4 linked regions of the Homo sapiens genome follow. The protein of the gene in region 1 purifies or fractionates together with the protein of each later gene. This does not show direct contact. Each region holds a gene or a part of one and is shown in the gene's direction. Other genes may lie near its edges.

Region 1 (5,442 bases):
TATGTTCTCACAGCTGTGCTAAGTGCTATGAGCAAATGCTAACAAATAGTTTCTGTTGCCTATCTGGGGTGGTTCTGAATGTAAGTTTCACAAAGGCAGGGGTATTCCTCTGCCTTGTCACTGTGGTATCCTCAGCACTTAAAGATGTTTCCTAGCGCATAGTAGGTGCTCAGTAAATATTTGTCAAATGAATGAATGAACGGATGAATTCTGCATCTACCCCATGAGACTCACCTCCTACAGTTCAAGCTTATGCTAAGAGAATAAAGTATTCCCTTGAGCGATTCTGTCTCCCCACCTCAGATTTGTTCAGACTTCTTTGGCATGCTCATTCTTCTATTTCTTGCAAATTTCATAGCTAAGCTCAGAAATGACTCTCACGTTTTGTGGTTATCAGATCTGAAAATATATATATGTAATAATAGTGAATGTGGAAGTAAATTGTTGACCTAATGGAATGCTCAGAGGAAAGAACAGGTTGAGAGTGAGGCCAAGGTCACAGATTTGATCTCAGGAAAGCTTTGTTCTATTTCCCAACCACAGACAACTCTCCCAGTCCAGACCAGTTGTGCCAGAGGAGACCAAGCATGGGTCCAAAATTCTGTATATACCGTGATGACAGTAAATGTATTAGCACCGCCAGAATGCGGTTCACAGTTGTGTCTTGTTGACGGCAGACCAGCAGCCTCATCACCGCAGAACAGCACACTGAGGCTGCTGTTAACATGGTCAGGTGTTGTTCCTGTGGCCAATGGGATGTTTTTAAAGGTGGGAAAGAGAGTGAGCAGGTGTGGCCTGGGGCTTCCTAGATATCCAGGCAAATGACTTAGCATCATGGGAGATTTCTTGTTCTGCTTTGTGGAGTTCACTCATCTCACTCCCTCAAACACCTTAGCTTTGTGGAGACTTGTTGTATTGCTTGTATTCTGACCTAGGAATGTCTTCCCTTCTTTTCTGTGGCTTTTGTAGTTATCAATGCCCTGTCTCAGAGATATTTCCTTCAAGCCAATGATCAGAAAGATATGAAGGACTGGGTTGAAGCCCTGAACCAAGCCAGCAAGATCACCGTAAGTTTGGTTTCTTCTGTTTTCTGGTGGTAGTAAAAGTGCCTCTTCCCAGGCTATGGCCTTGTTGGGGTTGGGGAAAACTGAGATGGCAGCGGGGACTTTCCCAGGAGCCTGGTCTGTACCCAGTTCTCTCCCACCTCGTCTTTTTCCTTGGCTGACCAAACACAAGTTGAACTGAGAGTCTGAGTTTGAATCAAGTTCAAGGGGAAGTTCATGGAGCGTCCCCTTTGTGCTTCCTGGGAGGGCTCCCGATCAGTCATGTTTCGGGTGATTCTGGGATGCTGATTCAGAATGTGGTAGGATTGGAAAATGGATTGGTGACTGTGAAAAGTCAAGTAAGGGGAAAAGCATATGGGGAGGGAAGTCAGAACTTTTTCCCAGCTTGGGGGATACTCTTCTTACTTTCAGAGGCTGCCTGCAGGGTCAGTCCAAGCCATCCGCCTCCCTGTCCTAGAAAAGCCTTCTGTTTAAAAGCATCACAGAGCTCGTTCATGGACTGTCCTACGAGTGTGCTCTTTTTCCTTGAGTTGGCTAATGAAGAATTCCTTTCTTTTTCCTTAGAGATATAGAAAAAGAAAGGAAGAAGGGTAGGAAGGATGGAGAGGGGAAACTATGTTTTGGAAAAAACTAGACTTTTAATCAATAAGACAGGCAGACTCCTGGCTTATATAGATCATGGCTTCTTTGCTGAAAAGTTTGTTTCTGTATCATACAGTCAGAAATGCTTATGTTTGAGGGGCTTCCAGTAGTGACTATTACATGCTGCAGCAAATTATCCTCCCAGATTTCTCAGGGTTCCTGTGAACAACTGTATAGAAGAAATTTGTACACGTATATAGTATTCATATTGCTAGACCCAACCTGAGTGTAATTGAGTCTCCTATAAGCACTTTTGCTGATTAGCTTCTTATTCTGATAAACCTTGGTAAACCCGTGAAAAGAGAGAGTGATGAAAAGAGAGAGGATGGATGGCTGGGTGCAGTGGCTCACGCTTGTAATTCCAGCACTTTGGGAGGCCGAGGTGGGTGGATCACCTGTGGCCAACATAGTGAAACCCCGTCTCTACTAAAAATACAAAATTAGCTGGGCGTGGTGGCACACGCCTGTAGTCCCAGCTACTCAGGAGGCTGAGGCAGGAGAATCACTTGAACCTGGGAGGCAGAGGTTGCAGTGAGCCGAGATCGTGCCATTGCATTCCAGCCTGGGCGACAAGAGTGAAACTCCACCTCAAAAAAAATAAAAAATAAAAAAATTAGCCAGGCCTGGTGGCTTACACCTGTATTCCCAGCTACTTAGGAGGCTGAGGCAGGAGGATCACTTGAGCCCAGAAGTTTGAGGCTGCAGGGAGTTATGATCGCACCACTGTACTTCAGCCTAGGCAACAGAGTGAAAGCCCATCTCTTAAAGAAGTCTCAGGTAGTGTAAACAGCTTTGGAAAGGCTCTGCATGTTGATCTGAAGCACTGCATGACACCGGAGCATAAGCACTGACAAACAGTGTTCTTCGGGATTTTGAGAGGAAACACAGCAGCCAAGCTTCTGTGCCTCCTTTTCTGGCCACTGGGAACTCTAAAAAGTTACTTTCTGGCCAGGCGCGGTGGCTCACGCCTGTAATCCCAGCACTTTGGGAGGCTGAGGCGGGTGGATCACAAGGTCAGGAGTTCGAGACCAGCCTGGCTAACATGGTGAAACCCCGTCTCTACTAAAAATATAAAAACTAGCTGGGCATGTTGGCATGCACCGTAATCCCAGCTACTTGGGAGGCTGAGGCAGGAGAATCACTTGAACCCAGGAGCTGGAGATTGCAGTGAGCCGAGATCGCGCCACTGCACTCCAGCCTGGGCGACAGAGCAAGACTCCATCTCAAAAAAAAAAAAAAAAAAATTGTTATTTCCCTCCTTCTTTGCTGGGTTTCAGGAATTCATCTGGGTCATTTAGGGGAAATTTCTGCAGTTCCATGGTGATTTTAATCACTAAATATCAACTAAAAATCAACATCCCTAAAAATGTGGTTACATAATAACAGAACTCACAGAAAGTGAGAAAGAGTAGCTTAGGTAGGTCGTGACATGCAGCAACAAGGAGTCAGGCAGTCCTAGAGCCAAATCACTTAATTTTAATGAGCTTGAGTTGACCTCATCTATAAAGTGGAGAAAATCATGCCTGGTTGATAAGATTAGTGATAATGCAGCAAAGAGCTTATCAGTGCATTGCCTGGCACTGAATGGTGGCCCAGAGAAACTGTAACTGCTGGTATCTCTCAGCCAGAAAGAAAATAGAAGGCGGAATTTCTGGCCTGATTTGGAGGGGTAGGGAGGGGGCAGAGGACGTCCTTGTCTATGTAAACTGAGTGTGCAGTCCAGGAAGAGAAGGTCTCGTTGTCTTTGTGGGGGCCCAGCATAATCAGGGTGCTCTTATTGTTTTGAACAGACACCAAATGACAGGGCTGTCATATAGCTCTGAGCTCGGATCCTTAGGTCTTTCTTACTCTGAAAGCTGTAGAAGTGGGAGAGGACCTTAGCTTTTCTCTCGAAGTCCCGGTGACGTCCCGGCAGATAGATGTAGGGTGTTGCGTTCTCCTGAAGGTGGGGCATTGTGATGCTGGGGCACTGGTGGGAAGTCAGAGTTTAGTAGACATTCAGCTGTTTTTTTGTTTTGTTTTTGTTTTGAAACGGAGTCTCGCTCTATAGCCCAGGCTGGAGTGCAATGGCGTGATCTCGGCTCACTGCAACCTCTGCCTTCTGGGTTCAAGCGATTCTCCTGCCTCAGCCTCCTGAGTAGCTGGGGTTACAGGTGCCCGCCACTACGCCCAGCTAATTTTTGTATTTTTAGTAGAGACGGAATTTCACTATATTGGTCAGGCTAGTCTCGAACTCCCGACCTCAGGTGATCCGCCCGCCTCGGCCTCCCAAAGTGCTGGGATTATAGGCATGAGCCACTGTGCCTGGCCGACATTCAGCTGTTAATCCTGGCTTTGGGTAAATGACTCAACTGTTCTGGACCTCTTTTTTTTTTTTTCTTTCTAACAAAATGAAAGATTTCCTCAGCATTTGCAGACTCTAGTATAAATGAGTGAAGTGGGCAAGGAGGAGGAAACAGGGCAACAGGAATGAGGATAAGTGACATTTGACCCCTGGCCTCTCCCGTTCTGCTGGGGAGAATGGTAGGGACTGTGCAAACACAATGTATTTTCTATCTAAAAGGGAACTGCTGCATAGCTGAAAATCTGGATTTTTCTGTGAAATATCCCAAAACTTAGATGCAGATTTTAAAAAATACTGCATGTGACTAACAAAACATTGTTTGGGCAAAGTCAGTGGGTGGGCCACCAATTTGCAACCTCTGGCCTGTGATTTCCAACTAACAATAAAAATTTTATGATGATTTGATCAGCTGTGGTACCATATCTCTGTCAAGGAAGAGCAAAGATAGCTCATTCTTCCAAAAGGGCTCTGTGTATAATTATTAGTAACAACGTGGGAAGCCTTAATTATAATATTTTGTAATATGTTTTTCTTTTTAGTTGTGTTTCTAAAGCATTTAATATACTCTATCATTTGATAACCACAACGATGGTTATGATAAATATTATTCCACTTTTCATTTTATGCATGAGACGGTTTAGGCCTAGAAAGGTTTGATGGTTGCCAAAGGTCTCTCAGGTGGTTCGTGAGAGGTGAAGGGTTATACCACACATCTTCTGGCTCCAGACTTCATGGACCCCTTGTTCTGTCTCTACAAAGGCATGCATGCATTTTTACCTGTTCAATCTGCCCAGAATGCCTTCTCCCAGCTTCATGTTCCTGGTTCCTTTTATTTAGTTTTTTATTTTGTATTTTTTTCGAGACAGGGTCTCTGTCACCTAGCCTGGAGTACAGTGGTGTGATTATAGCTCACTTCAGCCTCCAATTCCTGGGCTCAAGAGATTCTCCTACCTTGGCCTGTTGAGCAGCTGTGTGCTACCACACCTGGCTAATTTTTTTTTTCATTTTTAGTAGAGATGGGATCTCACTATGTTCCCCAGGCTGGTCTTGAACTCCTGGGCTCAAGTGACCCTCCTGCCTTGGCCTCCCAAAGTGCTGGGGTTACAGGTGTGAGGCCCCGGACCTGGCCCCCATCTCCTGCTTACCCTCCAGGTTGCCGTTTGAGTGTCTCCCTGCCTTCTCCTCTAGAGACCTCCCTGCCCACTCTGTTTCCAGCAGGTCCCCTGCTGTGCGCTGCCTCAGCTCTCTTGATCTTCTTTGTGCCACTCACCACCATTTGTAATTACTCTGTTTGTTTTACGTTTTTTTTTGTCATTCCCCCTACTAGCATGTAAGTGCCGTGAAGGTGGGGACCCACGTGTGTTTCGCTTGACACTTTATCTTTGGTTTCTA
Region 2 (4,514 bases), on another chromosome or scaffold:
AACAATATTGTTGGTGAAAGGCTTTTTTGAAAAGGTCTGAATGGTTACAGTGGGCACTCCACGTGGTCTAAACTGCAAGAGTAGCAAAAATAAATAAAACAGTAGCATAAATATCAGCTCCTCCCTTTAGCCTTCCTGGTCATCTCTGTGATCCACAAAATCCATTGCTTCCTCGTCTATATATGCAATGTCCTTGCTGCAGCTCCAGTATCACACTTAACACCTATTCCTTTCCTGTCTCAGTATCCCCAGTACCTATATATGCCATAGTTCATAGCATATAATCTATAGTAAGTACATGTTTAGTAAACATTTGTCTTGATTCAAAAACCTTTACCTTTTGGTTTTTACTTTCCTATGTCAAAAATGAAGTTGGACCAGATTGTACTTCCCTATTCTGAAATTCTGTAATAGCCTCTAAAACTGTATTTAAAGGGAGTATTATATTAAGCAAAATGTATATGAAGTTTATACCGTAGAATTACTTTTCTCTGACATCCAGCAAAGTTGCTAGTAAAACCAATCTATTAACTCTAAAAAAATAACATCTTCTCACCTCGGAACCCAGTAGGTCCAGGTTTTCTACAGCCGTGTTTCTGCCAGCATCAATCACACTATGCTTTTTCAGTATTGGTTTCCCTGCAGCACCTGACTCAGAGTAGCTTAGTAGGTATTTATTAAGAAATAAATTAATGACTATATATACACACATATGACCAGAGGTGCTAGAGTTACAAACACCTGAGTCAGTCTCACCTTCCAAGTGGTGAGACTGAGTGGCAGGTTAGTTGTTGTTAACAGCTTCATTCAGTGGCGATCATTAGAAAGTCAGGAAACAACAGATGCTGGAGAGGATGTGGAGAAATAGGAATGCTTTTACACTGTTGGTGAGAGTGTAAATTAGTTTAACCATTGTGGAAGACAGTGTGGCGATTCCTCAAGGATCTAGAATAGAAATACCATTTGACCCAGCGATCCCATTACTGGGTATGTACCCAAAGGATTATAAATCATGCTGCTATGAAGACACATGCACATGTATGTTTACTGCGGCACTACTCACAATAGTAAAGACTTGGAATCAACTCAAATGTCCATCAATGATAGACTGAATTAAGAAAATATGGCACATATACACCATGGAATACTATGCAGCCATAAAAAAGGATGAGTTCATGTCCTTCGCAGGGACATGGATGAAGCTGGAAACCATCATTCTGAGCAAACTGTCACAAGGACAGAAAACCAGACACTGCATATTTTCACTCATAGGTGGGAATTGAACAATGAGAACACTTGGACACAGGGCAGGGAACATCACACACTGGGGCCTATCGTGGGGTGGGGGACTGGGGGAGGGATAGCATTAGGAGAAATACCTAATGTAAATGACGAGTTGATGGGTGCAGCAAACCAACATGGCACATGTATACCTCGGTAACAAACCTGCACGTTGTGCACATGTACCCTACAACTTAAAGTATAATTAAAAAAAGAAAAAAGAACAGCATTCAGGCCGTCATTCACAAAGGAAACTGGTTAAGAAAGTCACAGCACGCCCTAGAAAAAGATTGTGATTGGCCAAAATGCCCTTCACAAGTACTGCATATATTTAATAGTAATCATGGTGAAAGTTGACATGGTTTTTGCAAGAAATCATGTGAGTGGTAGGAAGCATCATAGCACTGTGTAGTGCTGTACGTCTTAGCCTGCATCACCCAGATACCGTGCTTGTTTGACTTCTAAAAGGATGTTTAAGACAAATACAAATCAGTGAAGAATGGAGTTTACTTTCTCTGTGGCCCATAGTCTGTGCGGCCTATAGTCTATTCACATTAGAAAAACTGAGAGTTCAGGTCCAAAGAACTTCCTATGAGTGTTGAATGTGTTAGAATGTTTGCTACATCGTGAGTAATCAAGTGAATGAAGTAATAATAATAGTAACACTACCTCATACTCATGCAGCACTTACCAGGACCAGACTGTTCTAAGCATTCACATATATAAATTAGTTTCTCAAACAACACTGTGAGATAGATACTACTGGATTTCATAGATTATAAGATGTACATTTTAACATCTCTGAGGGCTATGTCTTATGATATGGCACCATACAGTTATAATTGCCAGCAGTTTTTCTTAGAGTCCATAAAATAAGATTGAGAACTAGTGATGTCTTAAATTTGACTTTTTTTAAAAAAGTGACATCCAAATTTATAAATGAAGAAACAGAAATGCAGGGAGGTTAAGTGGCTTGCCCCAGGTTGTGCAGTCAGGAATAGCATAGAGTTAAAATGCAGGAGGTCTGCCTTTGTATTCTCTTGGTATCTACTGTACAAGTTCATTGTGTGCTCTGGAGTTGGATTTCTCAGTCCTGGTTCTACTTAAGTGTGTCTCTGAGCAAGTTAACATAATTTCTGTGTGCATCAGTTTCCTCATCTGTAGGACAAGAATAATAATGATACTAACTTCATAGGTTTAGGTAAGGATTAAATGAGAAAATGTATGTAAGTCCTGAAAGCAGTGTTTGGCACATTGTGAGCGCTGAGTACAATGTTAGTGGTAGTAGTGTGGTGGTGGTATTTAGGAAACATTGTCTAAGAAGCACAGAATAGAATAATCTGAAAATAAGGCAAGAAGATTTTTCCCAGTTTTTCAAGCATCACTATAAAATGCCTGCAGCCAGGTACAGTGGCTCACAGCAGTAATCCCAGCAATTTGGGAGGCTGAAGCAGGCAGATCACTTGAGTTCAGGAGTTCAAGACCAGTCTGGACAACATGGTGAAACCCCATCTCTACAAAAAAAAGAAAAAAAGAAAAAAAAATTAGCTGGGTGTGGTGGCGCGTGCCTATAGTATAGGTGTGCTACTCGGGAAGTTGAGGTAAGAGAATTGCTTGAGCCCAGGAGGTTGAGGCTGCAGTGAGCCGTGATCATGCCACTGCACTACAGCCTGGGTGACAGAGTAAGACCCTGTCTCAAAAAAAAGAAAAAAAAAAAAAGTCTGCAAAACCAAGTGTACTTTGCTGATTTGCCATTCTAATATCCCTTTAATTTTCTCATTTTCTCTTATTCTAAAATATAGTCGTCCCTCAGTATCAGGGCAGGGCAGGGATTGGTTCCAGGACTCCTTATGGATACCGACATTCATGGATAGTCAAGTCTCTTCTATAAAATGGTGTGGTATTTGCAGATAGCCTATGCACATCCTCCCATGTACCTTAAGTCATCTCTAGATTACTTTTAATAGCTAATACAGTGTAATTGCTATGTAAATAGTTGTTATTCTGCATTTTAAATTTTGTTTTACTTTTTATTGTGGCATTTTTTTGGTTTTTGGTTTTTTTTTTTGAGACAGGATCTTACTCTGTCATCCAGGCTAGAGTACAGTGATGTAATCATGGCTCACTGCAGCCTTGAACTCCTGGGCTCAAGCGATCTTCCTGAGTAGCTAGGACTACAGGTGCACACTACTACACCCAGCCAAATTTTTTTTCTATTTTTTATAGATATGGGGGTCTCACTGTGTTGCCTGGGCTGGTATTGAACTCCTAGCCTCAAGCAATCCTCCTGCCTCAGCCTCCCAAAGTGCTGGGTTTACAGGTATGAGCCACTGCACCTGGCTGTTTTTGGGGTTTTAAAAGATATTTTTTATTTGCAGTTAGTTGAGTCTGTGGATACAGAGGGCTGACTTTACTTACGTTCCTATAGCTTCAACAGCTCTTAATAATTTCAAAGGAGAGGCATTTTTAAGGTAGCAAATTATTGAACCTAAGTCTTACAGATTTCCTTTTGTTTTTTGATTTTACAAAAAAACATTTCTTCCAGTAGATTAATAATGAGCTAACATTTTTTGAATATTTACTCTGTCGATGCAGTTATAAGCACTTCACATTTAACCCTCATAGCAACTTTATAAGGAAGGTATAATTGTTGGCTCCATTTTATAGATGAGGAAACTGAGGTAAGAAGTACTTTGCACTTTGCTCAGACTTACATGACTAGGAAGAGCAGAACCATGGTACTTTAAAATTGATGACACTTTCACAGTGGATAACTTACCTCTCAATGCAAAATCTATGCTCAAGGTCTGACTTCCAGTAATTTCTGGCACATTTGGGTTTTGAAAAACAATTGGTGGGACCCTTGATATGATGCAATAAGAATAGCACTTTCTAAATCTTCCTCCCAAGAACCAATAACCCTACTTTAATCATGAGGAAAACATCTGACAAATCCCAATTGAGAGACATTGTACAAACTGCCAGCCAGCAGTCCTCAAAACTATTAAGGTCATCAAAAACAAGGAAAGTCTGAGAATTACCATGGCCAACTCAAGGCTAAAGAGACATGACGAAACTAAATGTCATGTGGCAACCTGGATGGGATCCTGGAACAGAAAAAGGATGTCAGGCAAAAAGCAAGCACATTTGAATAAAGTTTGGACCTTAGTTGCTAATACTGTATCGATATTGGTTCATTAATTGTGATTTGTGTACCACAGTAGTAGATGTTA
Region 3 (4,514 bases), on another chromosome or scaffold:
ACCTGGGGTGGGGGGTGCTGCGATAGTTAGCTATACCCCCACTTTCCATGGCTGCATTCTCCTCCTCCCCACACAACCTCATGTCCGCCTCCGATTGTCACATAACCTCATGTTTGCTTCTTATGTCTGCACAAAACCTCGCCTCCTCCTTTCCTACAATCATGCGCCCCCTCCTTCCTGCACAACGTCGTGGCCTCCCCTCCCTGTGCCACCTCACGTCTCTCTCTCCTCACCGTCGTGCCCACCTCTGATCTTCTGGCAACTTGCTGCCTCTCCTCTCCCTACACCCTCACACTCCCTCTGATCCCCGCACAGCCTCGCGCCCCCTCTTGACCCATACAACCTTGTGTCCCCCCACCCACCTGCCCAGTGGTTCCCAGAAGTGCGGCACCACTGCCCCAGCACACCCATCATCCTGGTGGGCACCAAGCTGGACCTGCGGGACGACAAGGACACCATCGAGAAACTGAAGGAGAAGAAGCTGGCTCCCATCACCTACCCGCAGGGCCTGGCACTGGCCAAGGAGATTGGTATGGGCCTCGGGCTCAGAGGGGCGATCTGGCTGCAGGGGAGGCCCTGACTTGGCCTCGTGGTGTGATTGTAAACACGGGCTGCAGGGCCAGGCTGTGCAGTTTGAACTCAGCTGTGCTGTGCACTTGCTGTGTGACCTTGGGCGAGTCACGTAGCCTCTCTCTGCCTGTGTTTCCTTATCAGAAAAGCATGGGATAGTGATAGCTCCTGCCTCCTGGGGTGGTTGGGGGAATTCAGTAACTTATTCCAGGTGGAGCTGCCAGGGCAGCACCTGTGTGTGAGAAGCACTCTGTGTTAGTAGTAGTCGTCCTAGTAGTATGAGTAGTATCTATTAATAGATACTGAAAATAAGGAGGTGTGCTTTGAGCAGACAGAAGCAGAGATTGAGTGGGGGTGCTGTGGTTGCTTGGAGGACAAGTGGCAAGTCAAACTTGGGTGTTCTGGGAAGGCTTCCTGGAGGAGGTGGCGCTGCATTAGATCTAAAGGGTGACACATTTCCTTCCACCACCTTCTCTCCTCCCTTTCCCCACTCCCTTTGGTTTCTCAGCTCGACCCCTCTTTGCCTCCAAATCACTGGGCTGGAGAAATATAGTAACTTCTCAAGGTCACCCAGCTAGTAGGTGGCCCAGCCAGATTTGAAGGAAGGACAGCAAATTATTGGCTCACTGCTGGGGGGTGCTTCTTTGTAGTGGCTCAGGGCTGCCTGCATCAGGGAGGCGATGACCATGGGTCTGGCTTCATGCATGGTACCCAGGCCTGCTGGCTGTTCCTGTCCCTGTCCCTGGTAGGTCCCAATGTGTCTGTAGCTCAGGGATCCTTGCCCAAAAGCCCAAAACCACCAGCTGGGTTTGGTCATATGAGCTGTGCCCTCTGCCTCACCACAGGACTCTGCAGGCCCAGGGTTTGGCCCCCAAATTGAATCCACTAGACCTCCTCCCGCCCCACCGCCCCAGCCCCGCCCCACCTCCCCCTGCCGGAACTGGGAGGGCCCTGGGGACTCACATCTCTTCACAGGAAGAGAAACCGCAGCCACCACCTCCCTCCTTCTGTGACTAGCGTGGTGACACAGCCATCTTCCCCGGGGGCCTCAGACTATGGCTCACACCCTGGCTCCCTTCCCCTGTCCTAGGGCCACAGCTCCCCAGCCTGCAAGTCTTTCCTTTTAAATATCAAGGATTCATCCCTGCCTTCTCTTTCTGACCAACCAGCACCCCTCCAACCCCTGCCCCTGGACTCCTTCTATTCAGGGTGCAGCTCTCCAGCCTGTGGCCTGGCTGTCACTGACCTCTCCCTTGTAAAGCACATGCTTTGGGATCATGTGGAGGGTGCTGGAGGCCTGGATTCTGGTCCTGGCTCTGATACTGATTGGCTGTGTGACCTTGGGTTAGTGGCTGCCCCTCTCTGGGCCTCAGTCTCCCTCTCCACATAAGCTGACCTGGACAATCCCCAAAGGCCCTCTCTCCTCCATAAGGTGGTGACTCAGAGTTCTTGCCTTGGCCTCTAGCCAGTCTTTCCTGGCTGACCCTGCATGGAGCTGGGGCAGGGGCAGTGATTTTAACTGTGCCTCAGACCAGCTTAGGCCTAGGGGGAGTCCTGGGGGGACTGGCAGGGATAGTGAGGGAAGCAGCAACTGCCTCTGCCCACCTGGACTCCCCAGCCCTGGGATGACAAGTTTTGGGGGCAGCCCTGAGCCCAGCTGATAATCACAGCTGATGTGGACTGAGCACTTCCTGGGAGCCACTTCATTCTCACAGCAGCTATGACGAAGAGCTCTTGTCACCTTCACTTTACAGAGAGGAAACAGGCTCGGGGGGACATGTTGCTGGCTTAAGGCCACCCAGCCAGGATTCTGACAGGGGTGGACTGGCTCCCTAAGCCACAAAGCTGAGGGCCATCTGTCCTCCCTGCACCTCCACTGCCCCCACCGCCCCCTCACCCTCCTTGCCCTCTCTGTAGCTCCCCTGCCCCCTGCCTCAGCTTGATGAGCCATCGCATGGCAATGAGTCCTAGACAGATGGGAGACTGAGGCCCGGAGAGGGGGAACTGACTAAAGTCCTAGAGCAGTGAGAGGCCGAGCCAAAGTGAGCCCTGGCCCCCCAGCTCAGGACCCTTGTCCTGGGTGAGTGGGTGGCTGGGTGCCAGGGAAAAGGCAGTTGGTGGATGTGGGGGAAGTGGACGCAGATGTGGTCCCTTATAAGGAGACAGTGGCCAAGTGCCCAGTGACACCTCCTCAACACAGGGGGCTGTGGTGACCAGACTCCGGGCTGAGCTCAGGGCACCCTGCTCTTGCCAGCCAAGCCCCATGACAACCACTGCCCATGATCCCTGGTGGGCGTATATGCCTCCAGGTAGAGGGGAGACGCCCAGCATGTGACTCAGAGCGAGTGACATCCTCTCTGAGCCTCAGGCTCCTCGTCCCTGCCCCACCCTTCCTTTCTCCCCAGCACCTGGCCTCAGTGGGCTCCCCTGTTCCAGGGGCTGCCCCTCCTGCCATCCCGACTTCTCCCCCCAGCTCTGTGCCTTCGGGCCTTGGCTTCCCCACTCTGGGCCTGTTTCCTGGTCTGTGAAATGGGAACTCACCCCGGTGTTGTTGGAAGCACCCAGCTCAGTGCCTGGCACAGGGTAGGTGGTGACCAGCGTCCATCCCCTTCCATCCTGCCACAGAGAAGCAAGCGGGCTTTGGCGGAGGGCCCAGAGTTCCCCTCCCCTCCCTTCTCCTTCCTCTTGGTTCTGACATCGGCCCCCAGGCCTGCATAGCATCTCGGCAGAAGGGGTTTTGTGGTTTTTCACTTCAGGGAAACTGTGCAGCTTGAAATGGACATGGGAAGTCACACGGACTCTTTGCAGAATGTCATGGAACGCCGTCCCTGGGGGTGGGAACTAGGCCTGCCTTTCTCCTCATCTGTGCCCCGGGCTCTAGCCCTGAGGGGTCTTCATGTGGGAGAAGGCTGGGCCTCCCATGGCAGGACAGAGGAGCTCTCCAATGCCACTCCTCCCAGAAGGCCCCCAGCTGGGCCCAGGTTGAGGGAATACATCCAGCGTGTGAGTTTGGATGAGTCGCATACTCTCCAGGAGCCTCAGTTTCCTTGTCTGTAAGACAGGGACGGTGCTAAGGAAGGGGCTGATGATGTTGGGAAGTTCCTGGGGAGGGGGCCCTGAGGGCTTCAGGCCTCCTGGGGATTATTTGCAACCCTGGGAGAATCCTGGAGGGATGGGCAAGACAATTTTCTAGAAGGTGAGGCTCCCAGAGATTTGGTCACTGATGCTTGAGCCCTTTCCTTCACAGAAAAGCATCAAAATTCCCGCCCTCCTTCCACGGACTAAGGGCTATGTGTCCAAGAAAGACACAGACCTGCCCTGGAGGCCTTAGTCTCTCACTGAGTTCACGCTCGCTATTACAGACATGAGGAAACTGAGGCACGGTGACGTTAAACTCCTTGCTCCTGGTGACACAGCCTCCAGGTGACCCCACTGGGACTGGATGGCGGCCCCCAGAGCCTGGTGTTCAGTTGTATGGCTTGGGAGGGGGTGTACGGCATGGAGGGGTGTATGGCGTGGGAGGGGGTGTATGGGGTGGGAGGGGTTGTATGGCATAGGAGGGGTGTATGGCGTGGGAGGGGTGTATGGTGTGGGAGGCGTGGGAGGGGTATATGGCGTGGGAGGCATGGGAAGGGGTGTATGGCGTGGGAGGGGGTGTATGGCGTGGGAGGGGTGTATGGCATGGGAGGCGTGGGAGGGATGTATGGCGTGGGAGGGGGTGTATGGCGTGGGAGGGCTTGTATGGCATGGGAGGCATGGGAGGAGTGTATGGTGTGGGAGGGGTGTATGGCGTGGGAGGGGTGTATGGCGTGGGAGGGTGTATGGCGTGGGAGGGGTATATGGCGTGGGAGGGGTGTATGGCGTGGGAGGGGTGTATGGCGTGGGAGGCGTGGGAGGGGTGTATGGCATGGGAGGGTGTATGGCGTGGGAGGGGTGTATGGCGT
Region 4 (4,514 bases), on another chromosome or scaffold:
ACTCCAGCCTGGGAGACAAAGCAAGACTCCATCTCAAAAAAAAAAAAAAAAAAAAAGTCAATCACTTCAAAACACAAATCTATTTTTTCATTCAATTTTACTGCTTTCCAACTTTTCTCATGGCATGCTAAATGTATGGCTCCTTTTATTTTTACAGTGCTTTATGCCTCACAAAGTGAATTATCTGATTTATGGCTTGCAACAACCCTGTGACCTAACAAGGAAAATATGATTCTTTTTTAACAATATAAAGTTCATAGCTAGTGAGGGCAGGGGGCTGAGTTTTTAACTCTGGTCTTCTAATTCCATCTGTTAATGTTATTCTTGTGTTCTTGTTGTTGTTGCTTTTGTTTTGTGCACTTTCAGTTCATATTTACAAATATGCAGATGATCTGACTCAAGGAAATGTAACTACCTGTTGTATTACTTCACCCAGTCATGGAAACAAGAATAATTTCATTTATAACTGAATTCTTGAATTTTAGTTAGTGTATTATAGAATAATTGGTAAATGTGCTAATGCCTCAGAATATATGTCTCATTCAAAATCAGCTAGAATAATAGGACTGGGTTTTAAAAAAAAAATCTTAAAAGGACCTATGCTGGTGTGATGGCTCACACAGTAATCCTAGCACTGAGAGGCTGAGGCAGGAGGAGAGCTTGAGTCCAGCAGTTCAAGACCAGCCTGGACAACATAGTAAGATCTCATCTCTGAAAAAAAAAAAAAATTAAACAATTAGCCAGGTGTGGTGGCACACACTTATAGTCCCAGCTACTTGGGAGGCTGAGATGAGAGGATCCCTTTAGCCCAGGTGTTCAAGGTTGCAGTGAGCTATAATTGTGCCACTGCACTCCAGCCTGGGCAGCAGAGTGAGATCCTGTCTCTAAAAGAAAAAAAAAAGAGAAAAAAGGACCTATGTGTTCAAGAATTATATGTGATGTTGACATGTTCAAAATTCCTTTTGAAATATCCTATAGACTGTTCTGTTATATGATTTATATATATCCTTAATGATAAGCAACTTATACATGTTGAAATCATAATAGCATTGTTGGAAACTTCCAGGAGTGCTTTTTAGCAAGTATGACAAATAGTCAAAATGAATAAGATCATTTCAAATATGAAAAGAGGTAACACAAAAATAATAAGACCAGTTTATTTTTGTACTTAATGAATTGGCTATTAACAGCTACTCAAGAGTCTGAGGTAGGTAGGAGGAGGTAGGAAGACAGCTTGAGACCAGGAGTTAGAGTCCAGCCTGGGCAACATAATGAGACCCCATCTTTCAAGCAAATAAATAAAATATTTTAAAAAATAAATAAATAAAATTATCCCATCCCCTTTGATATTCTAGTTCAAAATTTCAAGTAGTGATTTTTGCATATAAATATGTATTTTTTTATTTATACCATTACAGTACATGTATTAATATAGCTTTCTTACTTTTATCATTTTGAAAGAAACTTATAGATACAATGCATTCCTTTTGTACATCCAAAAGGACCTGGATAGTGAGAAAGAAGCAGACTGAATTGAGAGGAATTATATATAAAGTAATAAAAGGAGCAAATTTTTAAAAATGTAGATGGTTCTGTCCTAACAGGATTCCCTCCTGCTCTTGTATAACAGAACCATTCACATTAACCACTAAATATTTAGTACTTAAGGAAGTTGAGGAAGCTCAGAAGGGAAGTTGTTCTATAAATTTAGAAGACTGACTGACAGGAAAATTGTAGAGTGAGCTATGATGCGTTCTTGAGTAAAATTCCATGGAGAATTTCCATTCTTTATTTTGCTTCATTATTTTTATACTGTCTTTCATATATACAAATGATGCTCTTGGAATTGTTTTTCTCCTGGTGATACTATTGACTCAGCCTCAGTGGAGAGAATTCAGTCCTATGTCTGCTTAGGTATAAAAAGCAAACGATGTTTTCAGTTCTAAACTAGTTTAATAACACATTTGGCAAGTTCTGTTTCTTCAGATATTAGACATTTATTGAGTGCTCTTTTGTTTCAGTCTCAAATGATATGATATTTACATAGCAGGTAAATTGAGATGATTCTCTGTCCTAAATTTATGGGGGGTTTTTTTATGCAGAAAAAAGTCACGTTAAATGGTTTCTTGGACACGCTTATGTCAGATCCTCCCCCGCAGTGTCTGGTCTGGTTGCCTCTTCTGCATCGACTAGCAAATGTGGAAAATGGTGAGTAGTTACTAAGGAGCAAAGGTGATTTTTTAAATTATTGAAATTAGGCCATTAGTTCTACAGTTAGTAAGCCCAGGCTGTTGTTTTAGGGAAGCCTATTTAGTGGCTCTTAGTTTTGTTTAGGGTAGAACTAACCCATCTCCCTGTTCGGGAAGGCCTTAAAGGACCACTGAAAAATTAGGACTGTCAGTTCCAAAAATAAATCTCATGGTCTTCTTCTCAATTACAAGTCAGGTGTGGTTAAAAGACTTGGCACGATAGAAGGCGAACTTCAACAAGGAGTGTGACATTATTTTGTATTTGTTTTAGATCCGAATTTCTCATATTTGCATACACGGTACTGATTATTTCTTCCCAGGCACTCAGCCAGAAATAGGTGGGAGAAATGAGAAAAAAAAATAGATGATAGCACCCTGTTAATCTTTAGTCATATGTTCCAGATTGTGAGCTTTCAATAGTTGTACTTACGTTAAAGATAAGAGTAAAATAACTTTCGTATCATGTCTTTTTTTAAAGCAAGTATTTCTAGGATAAAAGGAACTACTGTTGGCATATCCAGATTTAAATATGAAATACCATTTGGGGCAAAATTTACAGAAAATTAAACATGGAGCAGTTCAGTGCCTCCATCTAATCTTTAGGTGTTCCTACTTATTGTTCAATGTAACTCTGAAATTTCTCCAGACTTGACGAGGAAATAATTTAGTCTCTATCTCTTACTGAGATTTAACTTAAGTCTCTATATATTACTCAACTTCTGTGTATTTCTTTAATATACATTGCAGCTAAAGTTAGCTTAATTTTAAATTATCATTCAGAATTTTTAGCATCTGCCCTTATTTATCTGTTAGTTAGAAGTTATGAATTTATCCTGTTTTTCTCATGGAGAAAATTTAAAGAATGAATTTATTTTATTTTTTTGCAATCACTAACAATCATAGTTTTTTTATGTTTATCCATATGCAGAAGCGAAGAGCAATCAAGGTCCATGTTATTATGCAAAATGAGTTCACGTTACTGTTTACAGTTCTAGAACTAGTCATTTTCCAATCATAAAGCTATAATTTCTTTCGTTCTCTCTCAGCATTTCCTGCTGCAGGAGATCAGTTTCTTAGGCACCATCCCAGAACAGTTGTCCCTAGATTGAAGTCCCACTCTAGTCTTTCTCAAGAGCCGGGAAGAAAGGTTATGACACTTGTTTAGAAGACAATGCGTCCAGAGCTAGTTATGTCTTTGTTTTTACACTTTGCTTTTTATCTTCATTTATTATTATTTTCATTGTTTTTCCTGACTGGTTAGGCCGGAGAATAGCTTTACCAAAGGCAAGAATTGTTATTGTTGTTTTAGTATCTAGCTCATAGCATGTAGACAATTACTTGGATTTGATCACTTAAATCTAATATTTTACTTTGCTTCAAATCTAGTATTTTGCTTTGCCTGCTTTATAATTCAAATTTCCTACCAAAGAAAGTTAACCGTCTCTTGAGGCATTTGAATTATTTAGAACTGTTTTCAGATAATTTGCACATCTTTTTTAGGGCCCTATACACCTGCCTCAGGAAAGAAAAAAAAATCTGTTTGTCAGATGTAGGCAACACCACTCGTTAAGTAAGCCATTAGTCACTCTATTTTTTAAAAAATAACTTAATTATCTCATCCACACCAGTTTTCCATTCTCTGCCCATCTTCCTTTCTTTTTTCTTCCTCTCATTCTCCGTGTCTCTGATATTCGCTCTCTTCCCACTGGACAATCAGCATTCACCCCTTGTGCTTCTGAGTCTTCCAGTGAGCTGTGCTGGTCTCCTGGAGACAGAGAGCAGTTTGGGGTAAAGGCAAGTCTGTTTGGCTAATTTAAATTCTTGTAATGTGAGAGATGGGAATAGAAAGAGCAAATGGCATTACAGAGATTTTTGTTGTTAAAAGGACACCTCTTCTCCATCCCATTTCATTTCATTTCCCCACAGGCATGATTGAAAAGGGTTGTAAGATTCCAGGAATGAACTAAATGTTTCTCTGAGCCCAAATCAACTATCATCTGAAATCGTGGTGCAGAGAAGAAAGGTGCAATTCCTGTAAGGCTGTATTTTTCCTTCTTCTGGTTCATACTTTTGTTTTCTTGGTTTTTCTTCACTTACTTCCCCCTTAGTCTTCCATCCGGTTGAGTGTTCCTACTGCCACAGTGAGAGTATGATGGGATTTCGCTACCGATGCCAACAGTGTCACAATTACCAGCTCTGTCAGGACTGCTTCTGGAGGGGACATGCCGGTGGTTCTCATAGCAACCAGCACCAAATGAAAGAGTA

What was found. The genes of interacting proteins can lie anywhere in the genome.
Region 2: the proteins of PLEKHA2 (region 1) and RALA purify together in Homo sapiens (affinity purification with mass spectrometry, with the first as the bait; one large-scale study listed by BioGRID). This does not show direct contact.
Region 3: the proteins of PLEKHA2 (region 1) and RAC2 purify together in Homo sapiens (affinity purification with mass spectrometry, with the first as the bait; one large-scale study listed by BioGRID). This does not show direct contact.
Region 4: the proteins of PLEKHA2 (region 1) and DTNA purify together in Homo sapiens (affinity purification with mass spectrometry; one large-scale study listed by BioGRID and IntAct). This does not show direct contact.

What each region holds. Positions count from the first base shown.
Region 1 is NC_000008.11:38,945,155-38,950,596, forward strand, and holds part of PLEKHA2 (pleckstrin homology domain-containing family A member 2), read left to right. Parts: intron 1-969; coding exon 970-1,067; intron 1,068-5,442. UniProt on the Homo sapiens protein: Binds specifically to phosphatidylinositol 3,4-diphosphate (PtdIns3,4P2), but not to other phosphoinositides. May recruit other proteins to the plasma membrane.
Region 2 is NC_000007.14:39,692,081-39,696,594, forward strand, and holds part of RALA (ras-related protein Ral-A precursor), read left to right. Parts: intron 1-4,514. UniProt on the Homo sapiens protein: Multifunctional GTPase involved in a variety of cellular processes including gene expression, cell migration, cell proliferation, oncogenic transformation and membrane trafficking.
Region 3 is NC_000022.11:37,227,247-37,231,760, reverse strand, and holds part of RAC2 (ras-related C3 botulinum toxin substrate 2), read left to right. Parts: intron 1-370; coding exon 371-530; intron 531-3,817; coding exon of another isoform or gene 3,818-3,855; exon of another isoform or gene 3,856-4,022; intron 4,023-4,514. UniProt on the Homo sapiens protein: Plasma membrane-associated small GTPase which cycles between an active GTP-bound and inactive GDP-bound state.
Region 4 is NC_000018.10:34,813,807-34,818,320, forward strand, and holds part of DTNA (dystrobrevin alpha), read left to right. Parts: intron 1-2,102; coding exon 2,103-2,208; intron 2,209-4,155; exon of another isoform or gene 4,156-4,357; coding exon 4,358-4,514. UniProt on the Homo sapiens protein: May be involved in the formation and stability of synapses as well as being involved in the clustering of nicotinic acetylcholine receptors.